2 linked regions of the Homo sapiens genome follow. The protein of the gene in region 2 purifies or fractionates together with the protein of the main gene of each other region. This does not show direct contact. Each region holds a gene or a part of one and is shown on either strand. Other genes may lie near its edges. The genes, in order: SHTN1 and OR4E2.

Region 1 (3,836 bases), on a different chromosome or scaffold from region 2:
AGTTAATCGCTCTTTCTCTGCCTTCTTTCTTCTGGCCTTGTGCTCCTAGTATCAGCTGTGTAATCTGATAGCTTCATTTTTTCTTTTAAATGGCTGGCATCTCAAAGACTACTATATGCATGTTGATTAGACTTAGAACATTTTGGGTTTTATGTTAGTCTGAATCCAGAATATCAGAGACAACTATTTTCTCTCTCTGCTTTTTACTTTTTTTGTCTAACTCTTCATCTCATAGGCCTCCCAGTAGCATTGGATGCAGGAAAAAATACATTGACGGTGAAAAACAAGCCGAACCAGTTGTAGTTTTAGATCCTGTTTCTACACATGAACCCCAAACCAAAGACCAGGTTGCTGAAAAAGATCCAACTCAACACAAGGAGGATGAAGGCGAAATTCAACCAGAAAACAAAGAAGACAGCATTGAAAACGTGAGAGAGACAGACAGCTCCAACTGCTGATCCATAAACCAGAAGCCTGACATGTTTGGAAGTCCTTTTCAATAAGCACATGATTAGTGTTGTTATATTGGCAAGGGCTGTAGACATTCTGCTCTGGTCACTGTATTCAGAATACAGGTTCTTTTCTGGTGTCACTTTTGTAAGTAGCAACTATAAACATAAGTAAGCTGTTTAGCAAAACACACATTCCTAGTAGGTTTTGGTTTTTTGATCTTTATAAAGATGAGGTTTTTTTCCTAGTTACTGTATTAAGTATGACTTCTTTTAGAAGGTTACAAAAAAATTCAGATGTTGATACCTTTTTAGGAAATGTGCATACCACTCATCAAATGGAATGCTGAAAGTTTGAGGTGCTTGTATATAATCGGATAAACAAAACTGATCAACCCAATGTGATTTTAAAAGCCCCCAAAGAAGCTTCTGTTTTGGGTCTGATCCTCTTGATGGAGAAACTGCAGCAGCATGGAAATTGTTGGGTACTGTGGCATACAAGTTATTTTCTACAGTAGACTGAGATAAACTGAAAACTCAGGAGCTGGCATCAAACTCGTAGTCCCATAGTCAGTGTTAATTACACACATTGTTAACTATTGGATGAAAAATACATGCTATTGATTGTGTCCAAAGCCTCCCGAGGACCTCCGTGGGGATGCTCTGGTAGCCTGAATACAGAACTGAGGTGAAAGTCCAAACCTTGAATTTTACAGTAGTAAGTTGGTAAACCATGTGCTCTGTGCTATGAGTTAATTATGTTTTCCCAAATACTAATGTGGCACAAGTACCATATTTTATCAGAGTTCTTATGTACAGTATGGTGAAGATAAGTGACAAGCACACATTTTTCTTGCTTCACTGCTGTTCTATATTACACAGGTTTGTTGTTGTTTTTTTTAAAAAAGAAATTAAGCAGTAGTTAGTCTCTAAAAATACAATGTTTCAGGCTACCACAGTGAATAAATAGAAATGTAATCAGGGATTAAAAAAAAAACTTATGCAGCTTTTCAAAGTTGATTGTTTCAAAATTGGTGTTTATTTAAAATAAGTGGTAATGTACTTGAATGCACTTTTTATGACAATGATTCAGTAATGGTAATTTTACTATTAAAGAAAGTGAAAGGTTTAGTTTTGTTAGCATGGCTCAGCATGTAGCTGTCAGGTGTTTTTCACCTAAGGGCAAAAGAAAATGATAGTAATAATTGCAGTAGTTGTATTGTATTGTATTTTTGCACGTGTGGTAAGCATAGGCTTGAAGAGGTGGGTAGGCAGGTACATGTACTTCCTAAATTTGGAGATAATTATCTTTCTGTAAGTTCGTTATGCTTGACTGTTTCCATGTTCTCCCAATAATGATTTTATAGTTACTTATCACTTTACTCATGGAGAATTAAAACGTAATGTTTTTCAACTGTATCTTTCTTTAACTGGATAATACTGCTATATGATATGCTTACTACAGACTGCATTAATTCACGAAACGAATTCTGTTATGCTGTAATTTGAACTCTCCTCACCACAACTTATTAAAAAGGCACCAATAGTTTCCCATTAAGGGTCAGTTGTGGTTATTATTAACGTTTCTGGTTTAGTTCCCCAAGCTTGACATTCTTTAATAGAAAATTGTATATGATTTGACAACTTTAGTAATTTTTAATAGTCCCTAAGATGGTTTATTGAGTTTTCTTTCATGTTTCTTTGTGCTGTCTTCCTTCTTGCATCTGTGATCTGTCTGCCAGCATGCAACTCACACACATTTAGGAATATAAAAATATGTACACTGTCTTTCCATATTTCATCACACCATCACAGAATAATATGGTTATCAAAATACCCTCCTTTCTAGAGTAAGAAGTTGCCCTTTGGGTGAAATGTGTTAGCTGGACTAGGGAACAATTAGTAACAGGTATTTTGAAAGTATTCCTGCCTTTTTTAAGCTGCTTACTTTCTCTCACTGTGATTACAAAGCATTTTAAATTAATTTGACATGAAGGTATTTGATGGAAGATATTCACTCACCTTTTTCTGCCTACAGTTTTTCCCTTTTCACTTTGGTTTTGAGGGGGTTTTGCCCCTGGCTGGGGTGACACTGTCAACCAAAGCAAGGGATCCCAAATAGGAAGACATAGGAGAACCGTGCTTATATCTGCAAGGTATGTTCATAGCTATTGCACACACAAAACTTACATACGTCCTGCTTACACAATTTTAAGTTGGAAAAGACTGCATCTTTATGTTTTTGATTTCTCTAAAAGGTTATTTATGCTTCCTTCTGTTTGGGAAAGATAAATTAAGTCTTGTGCGCTATAGAGGATTTTTTTTCTTTAAGAAAAACGAATGTTGATGCATTTTATAGCCCGAGTGAGGAACAGAGATAGAGGTACTTTGTGCCATTGCTATTAAAGAAAAAGAAAATGTCTCTTTTTTTTTCTGGAAGAATAAGATTTTAATTAAAGCACTTGCACCCTTTTGTATGTGAGCTGGTCTCAAACAAAGTCCTCACCCACAGCAGTTTCAGCAGCTGAACAGTCCCATGGAAGTTCTGACTGGCAGGCATCAACAGGGCTATTAGCACCCAGCATAGTTTGCCCTGAGTACGGAGGATGGATGCTTTGGCTCTAACTACTCACCAATAATTGCTCCTTCCTTACCTTCTTTGTTAATGGTAAACTGCTGGAAATGGAGTAGTACAGGTAACAATTATTTTTAATTGTCTTTCCAGACCAGTTTTTGGTTGTGTGTTCAGTAAATGATAGTCTGTATCACAGCCTTCAAGTCTGGATTATTTTTCTAAATGCATACTCTACCTGTTCAGTTACACTCGTTGTGGAACAACATTAGCTTATATACCAGTAAGTTGTCGAGAATGGATAACCATCTGTCATTATCACTGACCTTCAAAGACTCATCAAGCAGTCCCTGCATAAGGATTGGAGTGGTTTGAAGTTTCTCTTCCAAGCACTAACATGTCCCTATCCCACAGTCATTTTAATTTGGTATGTGACTGTTTCTTTCATTTCTTTCACAGATAATATTATATATACAGTTATATAAATATATTTCATATTAAATGTTATATAACACAAGAGAGAGAAAGTATAAGTAGAAAGAGTGCCTAGCACCCTAAGAAATTTAAATTAAAATGCTAATTATCCATTGGTGAGTGCAGTCTCGAGGATAGGTGAGTAAACTGCTCTGTGTTGAAGTCACACTGCTGACCTGGTTATTGTAATAAATCACCTCTTTGGTTAATTTAATTTAGTTATTTTGTTATTCATTGTACATTTTTGCTCTGGTTTTAGTAATTTAATTATAATTTATATCACTGTTCCAGGGCATAGTCTCATGATGTGTGTGTGTGTGTGTGTGTGTGTGTGTGTATTT
Region 2 (2,490 bases):
TTACATAGGTAAACGTGTGGCATGGTGGTTTACAGCACAGATCGTCAGGTATTAAGCCCAGACCTCCACAGGTGTAGAGTGGGTCCACGTGTTCTCATTATTCAGCTCCCACTTATAAATGGGAACATGTGATGTTTGGTTTTCTGTTCCTGCATTAGTTTGCTGAGGATAATGGCTTCCAAGTCTATCCATGTCCCTGCAAAGGACATGATCTTGTTCCTTTTTATGGCTGCATAATATTTCATGGTGTTATGTACCACATTTTCTTTATTCATTCTATCATTGATGGGCATTTAGGCTGATTCCATGACTTTGCTATTGTAAACAGTGCTGCAATGAGCATACATGTACATGTATCTTTATAATTGAATAATTTATTTTCCTTTGGTTATATACCCAGTAATGGGATTGCTGGGTCAAATGGTATTTCTGGTTCTAGATCTTTGAGGAATCACCACACTGTCTTCCACAATGGTTGAACTAATTTACAGTCCCATCAACAGTGTAAAAATGTCCCTTTTCCTCCACAACCTCACCAACATCTGTTCTTCTGTTGTTTTTTGGCTTTTTCATAATAGCCAATGGTATCTCATTGTGGTTTTGATTTGCGTTTCTCTAATGATCAGTGATGTTGAGCTTTTTTTCCTGTTTGTTGGCCACATAAATGTCTTCTTTTGAGAAGTGTCTGTTCATGTTCTTTGCCCATTTTTAATGGAGTTGTTTGTATATTAATAGTAAACAATGAGGTGAGGAGAGTACACTTGAATAGAGTGTATGTTTTCTGAGCAGAGGGAAAAGAAAAAGTAAAGACAAAGATTTTGGAAGGTAAGTAGGTGGAGGTAGGATGCCTGGAGGACAGTGACTTGCTTGGTCAGAGAGAAGAATTAATAGGGAGAATAAAAGGACACTCACATTGAAAAAATGAAAATGTGCAGCAGACTGTTGCAGGCTTTGAATGTATATCTAATTTGATAGAAGAGTCAAATTATTTAGTTGGGAGTTGTATTGGAATATTAGCTTAATGTTATCAGTGCTTTAGTTTGAAGTGAAAAGAGCCAAATAACTAATGTGTAAGGTTTCGGGCATTTATTTATTCTTGTAAAGGCTCACTGATCTCATCTGCAAGGCAGAAACAATTGATTCATGTGCCATAGGGTGGTTGTGTTTAAATAGAAGTGCCTGGCATGGCTCCTGGTAAGTAGTGGGTATACTGTAACAACTACTGTTAAATTGATTTCATAAGCTATATGCTCTGATGATAAATAAGCAATTCAGATAAGAATACAAAGTCATTTCAATTAGTTCTATTCCTATAATAATAAAACTAAATTAGCTTTCATTTTTTCCCCCCTAAGCTCATTGAATGGACAGTCTAAACCAAACAAGAGTGACTGAATTTGTCTTCTTGGGACTCACTGATAACCGGGTGCTGGAAATGCTGTTTTTCATGGCATTCTCAGCCATTTATATGCTAACGCTTTCGGGGAACATTCTCATCATCATTGCCACAGTCTTTACTCCAAGTCTCCATACCCCCATGTATTTCTTCCTGAGCAATCTGTCCTTTATTGACATCTGCCACTCATCTGTCACTGTGCCTAAGATGTTGGAGGGTTTGCTTTTAGAAAGAAAGACCATTTCCTTTGACAACTGCATCACACAGCTCTTCTTCCTACATCTCTTTGCCTGTGCCGAGATCTTTCTGCTGATCATTATGGCGTATGATCGTTACGTGGCTATCTGCACTCCACTCCACTACCCCAATGTGATGAACATGAGAGTCTGTATACAGCTTGTCTTTGCTCTCTGGTTGGGGGGTACTGTTCACTCACTAGGGCAGACCTTCTTGACTATTCGTCTACCTTACTGTGGCCCCAACATTATTGACAGCTACTTCTGTGATGTGCCTCTTGTTATCAAGCTGGCCTGCACAGATACATACCTCACAGGAATACTGATTGTGACCAATAGTGGAACCATCTCCCTCTCCTGTTTCTTGGCCGTGGTCACCTCCTATATGGTCATCCTGGTTTCTCTTCGAAAACACTCAGCTGAAGGGCGCCGGAAAGCCCTGTCTACCTGCTCGGCCCACTTCATGGTGGTTGCCCTCTTCTTTGGGCCATGTATCTTCATCTATACTCGGCCAGACACCAGCTTCTCCATTGACAAGGTGGTGTCTGTCTTCTACACAGTGGTCACCCCTTTGCTGAATCCCTTCATTTACACCTTGAGGAATGAGGAGGTAAAAAGTGCCATGAAGCAGCTCAGGCAGAGACAAGTTTTTTTCACGAAATCATATACATAATGGGCACTGGGATTGCAGACATAATTGCAGCCACATCCTTAATGAAAGAGCAAAAGTAAAGAGTCAAAATCAACTTATATAACTTGGTAAATTAGGTAAAATGGCATAGAGCAGGTCAGATTTCTGCTCATTAAAGATAAGAACTTATTCTGTTCATTAAAGATAAGAACTTATTAACTATTATT

The links.
Region 1: the proteins of OR4E2 (region 2) and SHTN1 purify together in Homo sapiens (affinity purification with mass spectrometry, with the first as the bait; one large-scale study listed by BioGRID). This does not show direct contact.

The regions. Positions count from the first base shown.
Region 1 is NC_000010.11:116,882,966-116,886,801, reverse strand, and holds part of SHTN1 (shootin-1), read left to right. Parts: intron 1-235; coding exon 236-458; 3' UTR 459-3,836. UniProt on the Homo sapiens protein: Involved in the generation of internal asymmetric signals required for neuronal polarization and neurite outgrowth.
Region 2 is NC_000014.9:21,663,720-21,666,209, forward strand, and holds part of OR4E2 (olfactory receptor 4E2), read left to right. Parts: intron 1-1,355; 5' UTR 1,356-1,363; coding exon 1,364-2,305; 3' UTR 2,306-2,490.